2 separate regions of the Homo sapiens genome follow, and region 1 is linked to region 2. Evidence: fine-mapped expression QTL. A gene starts in region 2. The other region holds a variant in brackets. All regions are shown on one strand. Distances are from middle to middle. Region 1 has its middle 36 kb from the start of NTAQ1. Region 2 holds the start of NTAQ1 (N-terminal glutamine amidase 1).

What was found. PIP is the estimated chance that this variant, and not a neighbour inherited with it, causes the effect.
Region 1: its variant is fine-mapped to the expression of NTAQ1 in thyroid (GTEx, PIP 0.98).

The regions. Positions count from the first base shown.
Region 1 is chr8:123,449,715-123,455,089 of GRCh38, reverse strand. It overlaps a transcript of NTAQ1 not described here and the pseudogene LOC124902105. Among named protein-coding and RNA genes, the nearest start is that of NTAQ1, 36 kb to the right of the region's middle. The variant T/G (reference allele first, on the strand shown) is at 3,247.
Region 2 is chr8:123,414,578-123,419,952 of GRCh38, reverse strand. NTAQ1 (N-terminal glutamine amidase 1) reads right to left here and starts at 3,179. Exons shown (of 6, transcript NM_018024.3): 1 at 3,021-3,179. The coding sequence starts at 3,103. It also overlaps a transcript of ATAD2 not described here. RefSeq lists silencers at 2,441-2,490, 2,811-3,010, 3,121-3,600 and an enhancer at 2,413-3,007.

The sequences.
Region 1 (5,375 bases), 35 kb before region 2:
ATCATAGCCAATGAGGTTTATCCGAGGCGTGATTATTGCTAATTGAAAACAAAATGGAAGACAGGTGACTTTTCCCCTCCCTTGAATAAACACTTCTTCCACACATGGATTTCCTTTTCCTAATCACCATGCTTCTGCCAGCAACTTACCAACTCAATGAATGCCTCATCCACTGCCACAACGCCAGACACCCACATTGCTTCTGATCACAAATCCATTCACAGCAAAAGAAATGGGTCCATATGCTGGTACCCCCCAGATGCTCTGATCTTACCGTGGTCCCCAGGGGTAGGTGATCTTCTTGATGGTAGAATGAATGGCCCATTGGAGACTGAGCTACAGTATCCGCTGGCAGACACCACCTGGTGACACTGGGGTTCTGTCCCATAAGATGTAGTAGATGCTCTGAACCAGTGACAGTACTGCCAGAGTTCACAGGTCTGGGCACCAAGGCTAGAAGTGAGTGCATCTCCGACTGCTACACCTGAGGTCAGGCGTTTGAGACCAGCCCGACCAACATGGAGAAACCCCGTCTTTACTAAAAATACAAAAAAATTAGCCAGGCATAGTGGCGCATGCCTGTAATCCCAGCTACTCGGGAGGCTGGGGCAGGAGAATTGCTTGAACCTGGGAGGTGGAGTTGTGGTGAGCTGAGATCGCACCATTGCACTCCAGCCTGGGCAACCACAGTGAAACTCCCTCTCAAAAAAAACAAAACAAAACAAAACAAAAAACAAAATTGCATCCATTTATTATCAAGGGAGCAATTATAGCAGAACTTCACTATGAATGACTGTTTCTCTAGATGTTTGTTTCCCGTCTCCATCACTTTGAATCAAATGCCTTTTGGATTCACGTAGCAAGCAATTTCTGTTCTCTGCCGCTGAGACCTGACTGGGATGCTTACTAAACCAGAACCACTCAGGGAGGTTCTGGACATTTGCCTTTTTAACAAGTTTGACATTTATTGATAAAGTTTATTTGCAGTAACTACAGGGTAAGTTACTTCAGGTGGACAGCTGTGAAGGACACTTCATCCCGACCATGGGGAAGCTCAGTGACCCACTCCTGCCCTACAACAGACAGCACCTTGCTAGTGACCCATTATCTGATTACAGAATGTGGGCATGAACTTGGAACTGGGTGAACTGGGAATTGGATGGCAGCCAGGCCCTGGAGTGGGAATGCCTAGATTCAAATCCTGTCTCCACCACTCACTAGCTATGTGGCTTTCTATAAGTCACTTTACTTTACTGTGCCTACGTTTCCTAATTTGTAACATGAGGAGAATAATGGTATCTACCTTATATTGTTGTTTTGAGGATTGAGTTCATACACATGAAGAGCTTAGATGAGCTATCTGGGGCCAGGCACGATGACTCACACCTGTAATCCCAGCACTTTGGGAGGCCAAAGCAGGCAGATCACCTGAGGTCAGGAATTCGAGAGCAGCCTGGCCAACATGGTGAACCCGTCTCTACTAAAAATATAAAATTAGCCAGGCATGGTGGCAGGTGTCTATAGTCCCAGCTACTCAGGAGGCTGAGGCAGGAAAATCACTTGAACCTGAGAGGCAGAGGTTGCAGTGAGCTGAGATCGTGCCACTGCACTCCAGCCTAGGTGACAAGAGCAAAACTCTGTTCCAAAAAAGAAAAAAAAAAAAAGCAACAAAACACTTCACCTTTCGGTGTATGAAATATTCTCTTCCCTGCCAACACACACACAATCTCATTTGAGCCTCAAAATAATTCTTAGGTGAGGCAAGGAAGGCCCAGAGAGGTTAAGTGACTTTCCCAAGGTCACACAGTATGTCACTAGCAAATGCAAAACTGTAACGGGGGCCAAGGACTTGAACTTATTTTTCCTGTATTCCAGGGGCAGGGACAAGATCTCCTCAGCATCTGGCCCCAAGGAGGTCAAACATAGCTCTGCATCCTGTGGGCCTTGAGTGGGAACTGATTCAACCGTCACTTACGGCTGCAGAAACAGCGTGTGCCAGAACGGTGTGACTGTATTAACATCTTGCCCCACAATTTCCTTCCAATGTTCTTCCCAGAAATTGCTCTAAAACTCCAGGTCCCCATGGAAACCTCAGGAGAGATTGCCTATTGACTCTAAGTGAAGTTCTGCTATGAGTGCTCCCTTGATAATAAATGGATGCAATTTTGTTTTTTGTTTTGTTTTGTTTTGTTTTTTTTGAGAGGGAGTTTCGCTCTGGTTGCCCAGGCTGGAGTGCAATGGTGCGATCTCCACCTCCCGGGTTCAAGCAATTCTCCTGCCTCAGCCTCCCGAGTAGCTGGGATTACAGGCATGCGCCACTATGCCTGGCTATTTTTTTTTTTGTATTTTTAGTAAAGACGGGGTTTCTCCATGTTGGTCGGGCTGGTCTCAAATGCCTGACCTCAGGTGATCCGCCCGCCTAGGCCTCCCAAAGTGTTGGGATTACAGGCATGAGCCACCGTGCCCAGCCTTTTAAAATTTTATTTTTGTGTGTGGAGACCGAGTCTTGCTGTCACCCAGGCTGGAGTGCAATGGCTCGATCTTAGCTCACTGCAACCTCTGCCTCCTGGGTTCAAGAGATCCTCCTGCCTCAGCCTCCCAAGTAGCTGGGATTACAGGCATCTGCCATCATGCCCAGCTAATTTTCATATTTTTAGTAGAGACAGGGTTTCATCATGTTGGCCAGGCTGGTCTTGAACTCCTGACCTTAAGTGATCCACCGGCGTTGGCCTCCCAAAGTGCTAGGATTACAGGTGTGAGCCACTGTGCCTGACCAATAAATGGATGTTATTAAAAGCCTGGCCTGAACAGATACCTGCTGTAAAGCTCAGGGCCAAAGCCACATTCTCCCTGGACTGCCAGGGTAAAAGACATAGTTCATTCTCTGGTGCTAGGCTGAGTGGTCAGCTTGGAGCAAAGGGGAAAAGTATACTGTGAGCTCCTGCTCTCAATATCAGACACTAGACATGGTGCTTTCCATATCTGCGTTTGTGACAAGAGGCTGGAATGAGGTGCCTGCCAAGAATGTGAGAGAACTAATTAAATAAATCCATGGTGTTCTTTGCTCTCTGCAAAAGTCATTCATAACGTGCTTTTCACACCAAAAGGTGGAAGAGTAGGGCTTGGAGTTAAGGCTGAAGGGACTGCAGACAAAACCGGTTTGAAAAAGGACAAGATCATCTAAAAAAGGAATAGAATCTAGTCAACGGGAATAATTCAAAGCACAAGACTTTAGCAGCAGTTTTC[T/G]AGCATTATCCTGAGATCCAGTGGAGTGGCGGACTTGATGTTCCAGACCCCTTTGGTGACAGGAGTTGTTCCTTTATTGAATGCTTGAGGAATATTTGTTGAGTGCTTACTATAAGGTATCAGATACCAAGACACTGTATTACAGTGGAGAATAAGGCAGGGAGGACTCACAGTCCAATGGAGGGAGATAGAAAACAGACTTTTAGACCAGGTGTGGTGGCTCGTGCCTGTAATCCCAGCATTTTGGGAGGCTGAAGTGGGCGGACCAATTGAAGTCAAGAGTTCGAGACCAGACTGGCCAACATGATGAAACTCTGTCTCTAATAAAAATACAAAAATTAGCCAGGTGTGGTGGCACATGCCTATAATCCCAGCTACTTGGGAGGCTGAGGCAGGAGAATCCCTTGAATCCAGGAGGCGGAGGCTGCAGTTAGTCAAGATCACGCCACTGCACCCCAGCCTGGGTGACCGAGTGAGACTCCATCTTAATTTAAAAAAAAGGAAAACAGACTTTTAAACAAATAAGTGTGCAAGATCATTTCAGTTAGTGATAACTGCTATGAAGAAAAAAGGGTACTGTCATGTTGACTGGGGCAGTCAGCTCTAGATACGTCACCAGGGAAGAATTACCAGACTCGGAGCTCAGACCTCAATGTCAGGCAGTGTCAGCCAACAGAAGATAAGGGAGAAAAAAAGGGTCAGATCAGGGTAAACAGAATGTGAGGTCCCTGAGGAAGGAATGAGCTTGTCCTGCTCACCAAAAGAAACCTAACGGGGGAAGCAGGACAGGGAATGGGCCAGCAGTAGCAGAGCTGAAATCACAGAGACAGCCGTAATCCAGACCACACAGGGCCTGAGAGCCAGGGTAGAACAGTATATTTAGCTTAAGGACATGCTGAGGCCATTGCAAAGTGGTGGTGGTTTGTTGTTGTTTGAAAACGGGAATGAGATAGTCTGGTTTTTAACAGATCACTCTGTATGAAGGAGACATGAAGCAGAAAGAAAAAATAAAGATCACTTTGGCTGCTTTGTGAAGAAAACACTGCAAAGTGGGAAGAGGTCAAGGAAAAAAAGCAAAGAGTTATTGGAGTGGTGCCTGAGGCTTCCCCATGACCTGGATGAAATATCCCTGAAAGTTATCCAGCTTTCTTTCCTCTCTGTCAATGCTGAAGAAGGGCTGCATGAACCAAGGGATGGATCGAGTCAAAGGGAGCGTCCTACAGAGTGAGAACTGAGGAGTGTTTGCCCTGCTTCAGAGACAGTGGCCCTGGAGGACAGACAGGTTTTGATGTCATGAGAGGTCTCCTTGGAGGGGCAGAAATGGGTAATTCGTTCTTCAAAATGGAAGAATCAGCTGACAACCTGGCAAACAGCAGTCTCCCCTGCTGACCCACATCCTCCTGCAGTACCACCCCCTTTCTCTGCCCCCTTCCCAAACCACTCTACTTCCTTCCTCCTGTTCCCTCCTGAACCTACTGAAATTAGGCTGTCATCCCCATCACTCCACTGAAATTGCCCACAGACCTCCACAGTGCCAAAACCAACGGTCATCCCAGTCCTCAACTTACTCAACTGATCAGCAACATCTGACAGAGCTGATCCCTCTCCCCTTCTAATACCACTTTCTCCTTTGGGCATCCTTGTTTTCTCCTCCTTCCTCCATGACCATTCCATCTGTCTTCCCATCTCCTAAGCCCTAAATAAAAGCTCCCTAGGCTAGGTCCCTGGACCTTTCCTCTATCCACACACATTCTCTCAATGATATCATAGAGGCCTGTATCTTTAAATGTCATCTATTAACAGATGTCTCCCAATTTGATATTCCTATCCTACATCTCTCCACTTGACTCTGGGACCCCTTTATCCAGCATATATATATATATATATATATATGCACACACACACACACACACATATATATATACACACACATATATACATATGGAGAGATAGAGAGAGAGAGAGAGAGAGAGAGAGAGAGAGAAAGCAGCGAGCCAGAGTCTCACTCTGTCGCCCAGGCTGGAGTGCAGTGATGTGATCTCAGGCTCACTACAACCTCCGCCTACCACACCCGGCTACCAACTCCTATTTGACAGCTCCTGTTAGACATCCAACTGGCACCTCAAATT
Region 2 (5,375 bases):
GCACATGTAACCCCAAATCTAAAATAAAAGTTGGAAGGGAAAAAAACTCAAACAAAATATGTGATTGGATAATATCTGAAATGTTCTTTAAACTCTAAACAAAAGCATAAGGGACTCAAAAAAGGGAGAGAGGGAGGGAGGGAAGAAAGGAATGAAGGAAGGAGGGAGGGAGGGAGGGAAGAAAGGAAGGAAGGAAGGGAGGGAGGGAGGGAGGGAGGGCTGTGGATTTGCCCCAAGCTGTCAGCTGATCATCTTGGCAGCAGAAAGGTTGGGACACTCCAGGGGTTCCCAGTGATGAGCTGAGGTCAGAGATGCATGCAGATGGGGAGGACCCCTGGCACAAAGCAGGCACTCCACAATTGTTTGAAAAACACAAAACAATTAAGTCAGAATCAGAAATGCTCTGCTGACGACACAGTCCCAAACAAATACTGGCTGCCACTATTATCATTAAGCAGGGTCTTGAAGCGTAAGTAACATCTGGAAGCTAACATGACGGAAGCTAACAGAAGTAGACAGGAGGCATTCATTTCAACTTAAAAAACCTGCAGGATGGCCGGGCACGGTGACTCACACCTGTAATCCCAGAATTTTGGGAGGCTGAGGCAGGTGGATCACCTGAGGTCAGGAGTTCAAGACCAGCCCAGCCAATGTGGTGAAACCCCGTCTCTACTAAAAATACGAAAATTAGCTGGGCATGGTGGTGGGTGCCTGTAGTCCCAGCTACTCAGGAGGCTGAGGCAGAAGAATGGCTTGAGCCTGGGAGGTGGAGGCTGCAGTGAGCCAAGATGGCATCATTGCACTCCAGCCTGGGCAACAGACTGAGACTCTGTCTCAAAAAAAAAAAAAAAAAAAAAAAAAAAAAAAAAAACCCCCAAAGCTGCAGGAGCCAAAGTAGTGTGGTGTCCCCACCTGATGTGTTCAGACAGGGTAGAGCACTGGTTCTCAGCAAGAGGCGATTTTGCCCCCCAACCCCTACAGGACACTTAGCAATGTCTGGAGACATTTTTGGTTGTCATAACTAGGGCTAGGGTGCTAACAGTATCTAGTGGGTAGAAGCCAGGGATGCTGCTACACGTCCTGCAATACACAGGACAGCCTCCATAGCAAGGAATTATCATGCTCAAAATGTCACTCAAGCCAAGATGGAGAAACTCTGTGGTAGAGTGGTCATCTCTTACCATTCTTCTACAAGACTGCTCTAACTCCAATACTCCAGTTGTACCAGCCTCCTCACTGTTCCTATCACACTCACAGCACCATTCCTTCTCAGAGCCTTTGTACCTGCTGTTCTCCCTGCTTAAACAACCATCCTCCAATAGTTGCAAAGCTCCCACCCTCTTTTTTCAGATCTCTTTTCAAATATCACCTTATCAACAATGTCTTCTCAAAATATCCTAATAGAAGATAAGTCACCATCCTTTATCTTATTTTTCTCATAGTATTTAACATCACCCAAACATGGTTTACTTGTTTTTTTGGCTTTTTATTTTTTTTTTTTTTTTGAGATGGAGTCTTGCTCTGTTGCCCAGGCAGGAAGGGGCAGTGGCATCAGCTCACTGGAACCTCCACCTCCCAGGTTCAAGCGATTTTCCTGCCTCAGCTTCCCGAGTAGCTGGGATTACAGGTGCACGCCACCACACCTGGCTAATTTTTGTATTTTTAGTAGAGGCAGGGTTTCTGCATGTCGGCCAGGCTGGTCTCAGACTCCTGGCCTCAAGAGATCCGCCCACCTCGGCCTCCCAAAGTGCTGGAATTACAGGCGTGAGCCATCGCACCGGGCCTTATCTGCTTTTCTCTCAAAATGAAAGAACCAAGGGATCCATGAGGGAATTTGTCGATTTTGTTCACTGCTATATCCCCAGTGCCCAGAAGTATGCCACATACTCCAAGTGCCTAATAAACATTTATTGAATGAATGAATAAAACAATGACTGGACATTAGGGAGGAGAACTAACGGGATTTAGAAGAGAGGCAGGACAGAAAAATAGTGCAGTAGTTAAGATGCATGAACTTCAGAATCACGAAGAGGTTCCAGTTTCAGCACCACCACTTGCTAGATGTGTGATTTGGGGGCACAGAACAGCCTCTCTGTGGCTCAGTCTTTTTATTAGTAAAATGAGGATAACGATAATAAAAGAAGGTACCTCCTGGACATCGATGGAAGCACCTGCCACTGAGCCTGACATGCAATCAGGGCCGAACAAATGTTAAGCTCTTGGTGGCATTGGTTTAGTGACCAGCAGAAGGGGGAGGAGTAGGTTTAGATAGCACTGAGGTTTCCTGTACAAGGACTAGAAGCTGGGGAAGAAGCCATTACTCAGGAAAGAGTAGGTATGAGGACTAAGGCAAGGGCGGTACTTCAGCTGCAGAGGTGGCCTAGGACAGGGGTGCACTGCGTGGATTCCGGGGCCAGACCCTGACTGTAAATCCCCACTCCTTCATTCACAAGCTACGTGGCCCTGCGCAAATTACTTGCAGCCCTCTGTGCTTCAGTGCTCTCATCTTTCAACTGGGGATAACAATACCTACCTCTTACGGTTATTGTGATGCTCAGTGATTTAGTTTACCTAAACCACCCAGAACAACGCGTGGCATATAGCAAGTGCTGTATGAAAAACTCTCCGTGCCTTCATTCTCTTACAAAATTAAAATGACCTTCACCTCAGTCTGAAACCCCACAGGCTTCAGCAGAGTAACCCCCAAAGATTTTCAGAGCTCCACCCTTCCTGGCCCCGAAGCAGAGATCTGCTGAGCAAATCCAACCGACAAGCGCCAGGCACAGGTAATGCACTATCGACCCTATGATTCCGGACGAATTCCCAACCCCATCCAATAGCCCACGCTCTACTCAAGAGACGAGAGCTGCCATTCCCGCTCCCTCCTCCCGCAAAACTGTAGAACCCGCCGGTAGAGGCCGGGAGCGCCCCCGAGGAGGGGCCGGGAAGAGGCGGGGCCCGGTTGCGACTCGCCGCCCGGGAGCCTGGGAGACCCAGAGGCTGCGCCCGCGCCCCCTCACCAGTAGCAGCTGCTGTAGACGCAGGCGTCCCGCGGGGGGCTGGCCGGCTGGTAGTGGACAGCAGCGGGGCCATTACCTTCCATGGCCGGCTAGCTGGGCCAGGGCCCGGGCCGGAGGAAGACCGACTGGACCAGACGTAGGAAAGGGCGGGCTTGTAGTGGCCCGCGTGGGTTCCCGGCGTGGGGTGGGCGGAGCCCGGGGGGAGAGGGCCGGGGCAGTTTCCGGGTGGTGGGGCCAGTAGCGCGGTGGGCGGGGCCAGGGCGGGACTAGCAGCACGAGTTCCCGGCGCGGGAAGCCCGGGACGAAGTAGGCGGAGCTCGGGGCAAGCGGCGCCAGTTCCTGGGAGGGTGGAGCCCAAGCGAAGTGGGCGGGTCCGGGGTGGGGTGAGTGGCGCGAACTCCCGGTGGGCGGAGCCCGGGACGAGGAGGACAGCGCGCTTCCGGGTAGGCGGAGCCCGGCTGGTGGGTGGGGCCCGGGATGGGGCGGGACTGGAGGACCGGGCTCTGGTGGGCGGAGTCAGGGGCGGGGCCCCGGTGAGCTTTGGGAGAAGAGGGGTCTCTGGCGGCGGCTTGGGGAGGAGCTAGGTTTGGGCTTGGAGTTGGGCCCTGAATGGCGCTTTGCTGTGAATCTCCGCGGGGAGGCTCTTCCAACCAGGGGCTGAGCTTCTGCGCTGTGGAGAAGCCAGGTGAGACACTGAAATAACAGAGGTTTGGGTGTGAAAATCCACGCTTCTGCACTCAGCCTGGAGTCTGCGGGAGCCCAGAGAAGAGGGGAGTGGAGGTTAATTCCAATATGACCGCATCGAGGACGCTTTCCGAAAGGGATAGCACCCCAAATCTCACTCTATTGTAACTTAATCTTTTAAATTGGAAGGCCTGTAGCTATTGGCTCGAAAAGATATATTAATTCCCTGATACAGTAAATTTGAAAAAAAAAAGTTTAAAGAGTCCATATGGTATCCTTTTTGTGTTAATCATATATTTTGTTCAATTACTGGCAGTCTGGAAGAAAAGACACCATATTGTTAAAATAGTGTTTAGGGCCGGGTGCGGTGGCTCACGCCTGTAATCCCAGCACTTTGGGAGACCGAGGCGGGTGGATCACGAGGTCAGGGGTTCGAGACGAGCCTGGCCAACATGGTGAAACTCCGTCTCTACTAAAAATACAAAAATTAGTTGGGCGTGGAGGCGCGCGCCTGTAATCCCAGATACTCGGGAGGCTGAGGCAAGAGAATCGCCTGAACCCGGGAGGCGGAGGTTGCAGTGAGCCGAGATGGTGCCATTGCACTCCAGCCTGGGCAACAGGGTGAGACTCCGTCTCAAAAAAAAAAAATAGTGTTTATCTCTGGTGAATGAATGATATTAATATCAGGGACTTTCAGTTTCAAGGTCTTTACACTTTACAGTCTTCTGAATTGTTTATATTTGCAATGAGCATAGCTAGCTAATCAGGGTACTTCCCATTATAAAAACTGAGATGTTTACATTGATTTTAGCCATCCACAGTTGGATTCTCCAATCTCTTCAGTCTCAAAGCTGATAAATCCTAAAGACTTGGAGCACAGTTCCTGTGTCAATTACCAATTTTATTGCCTCTCAGCTCCTAATACAAACTTCCACATAGCCTCTATGCTATATAACAACTCTGGTAAACATTTCTCCTTTAAAGTGAGTGGGAAACCCTATAAGCTAGAAGGGATTGGGGCCCTATCTTTAGCCTCCTCAAACAAAACAATTATCAGCCAATAATTTTGTATCCAGCGAAACTAAGCATCATATATTAAGGAAAGATACAGTCTTTTTCAGACAAATGGTGAGAGAATTTGCCACTACCAAGCCACCACTACAGGAACTGCTAAAAGGAGTTCTAAATCTTGAAACAAATCCTGGAAACACATCAAAACAGAACCTCGTTAAAGCATAAATCACACAGGACCTATACAACAAAAATACAATTTAAAAAACAACAAAAAAAAACAAGGTACACAGGCAACAAAGCACGATGAATGGAATGGTACCTCACAAGTCAATCCTAACATTGAATGTAAATGGTCTAAATGCTCCATTTAAAGTGAGTGGGACAGGTGTAGTGGTGAGAACATCCTTGTGGAGTCTGCCCCAGCCCCAGACTCAGAACATGGTCCCTTCCTAACCTTGCAGGTTTAGCCTGGCAATAACCTTTCTTCAGCCTCTTGACACAAAAACCAGGGTCCTCCCTAACCCTACCTTCTATACGGTAAGGTACTGAATAGAGTTTCCTTATGTGTTATCGTTATGCCTTTATCATAGTTAATAATAATTTTTTGGTGGGGGACAGGGTCTCCCTCTGTCACCCAGGCTGGAGTGCAGTGGTGCA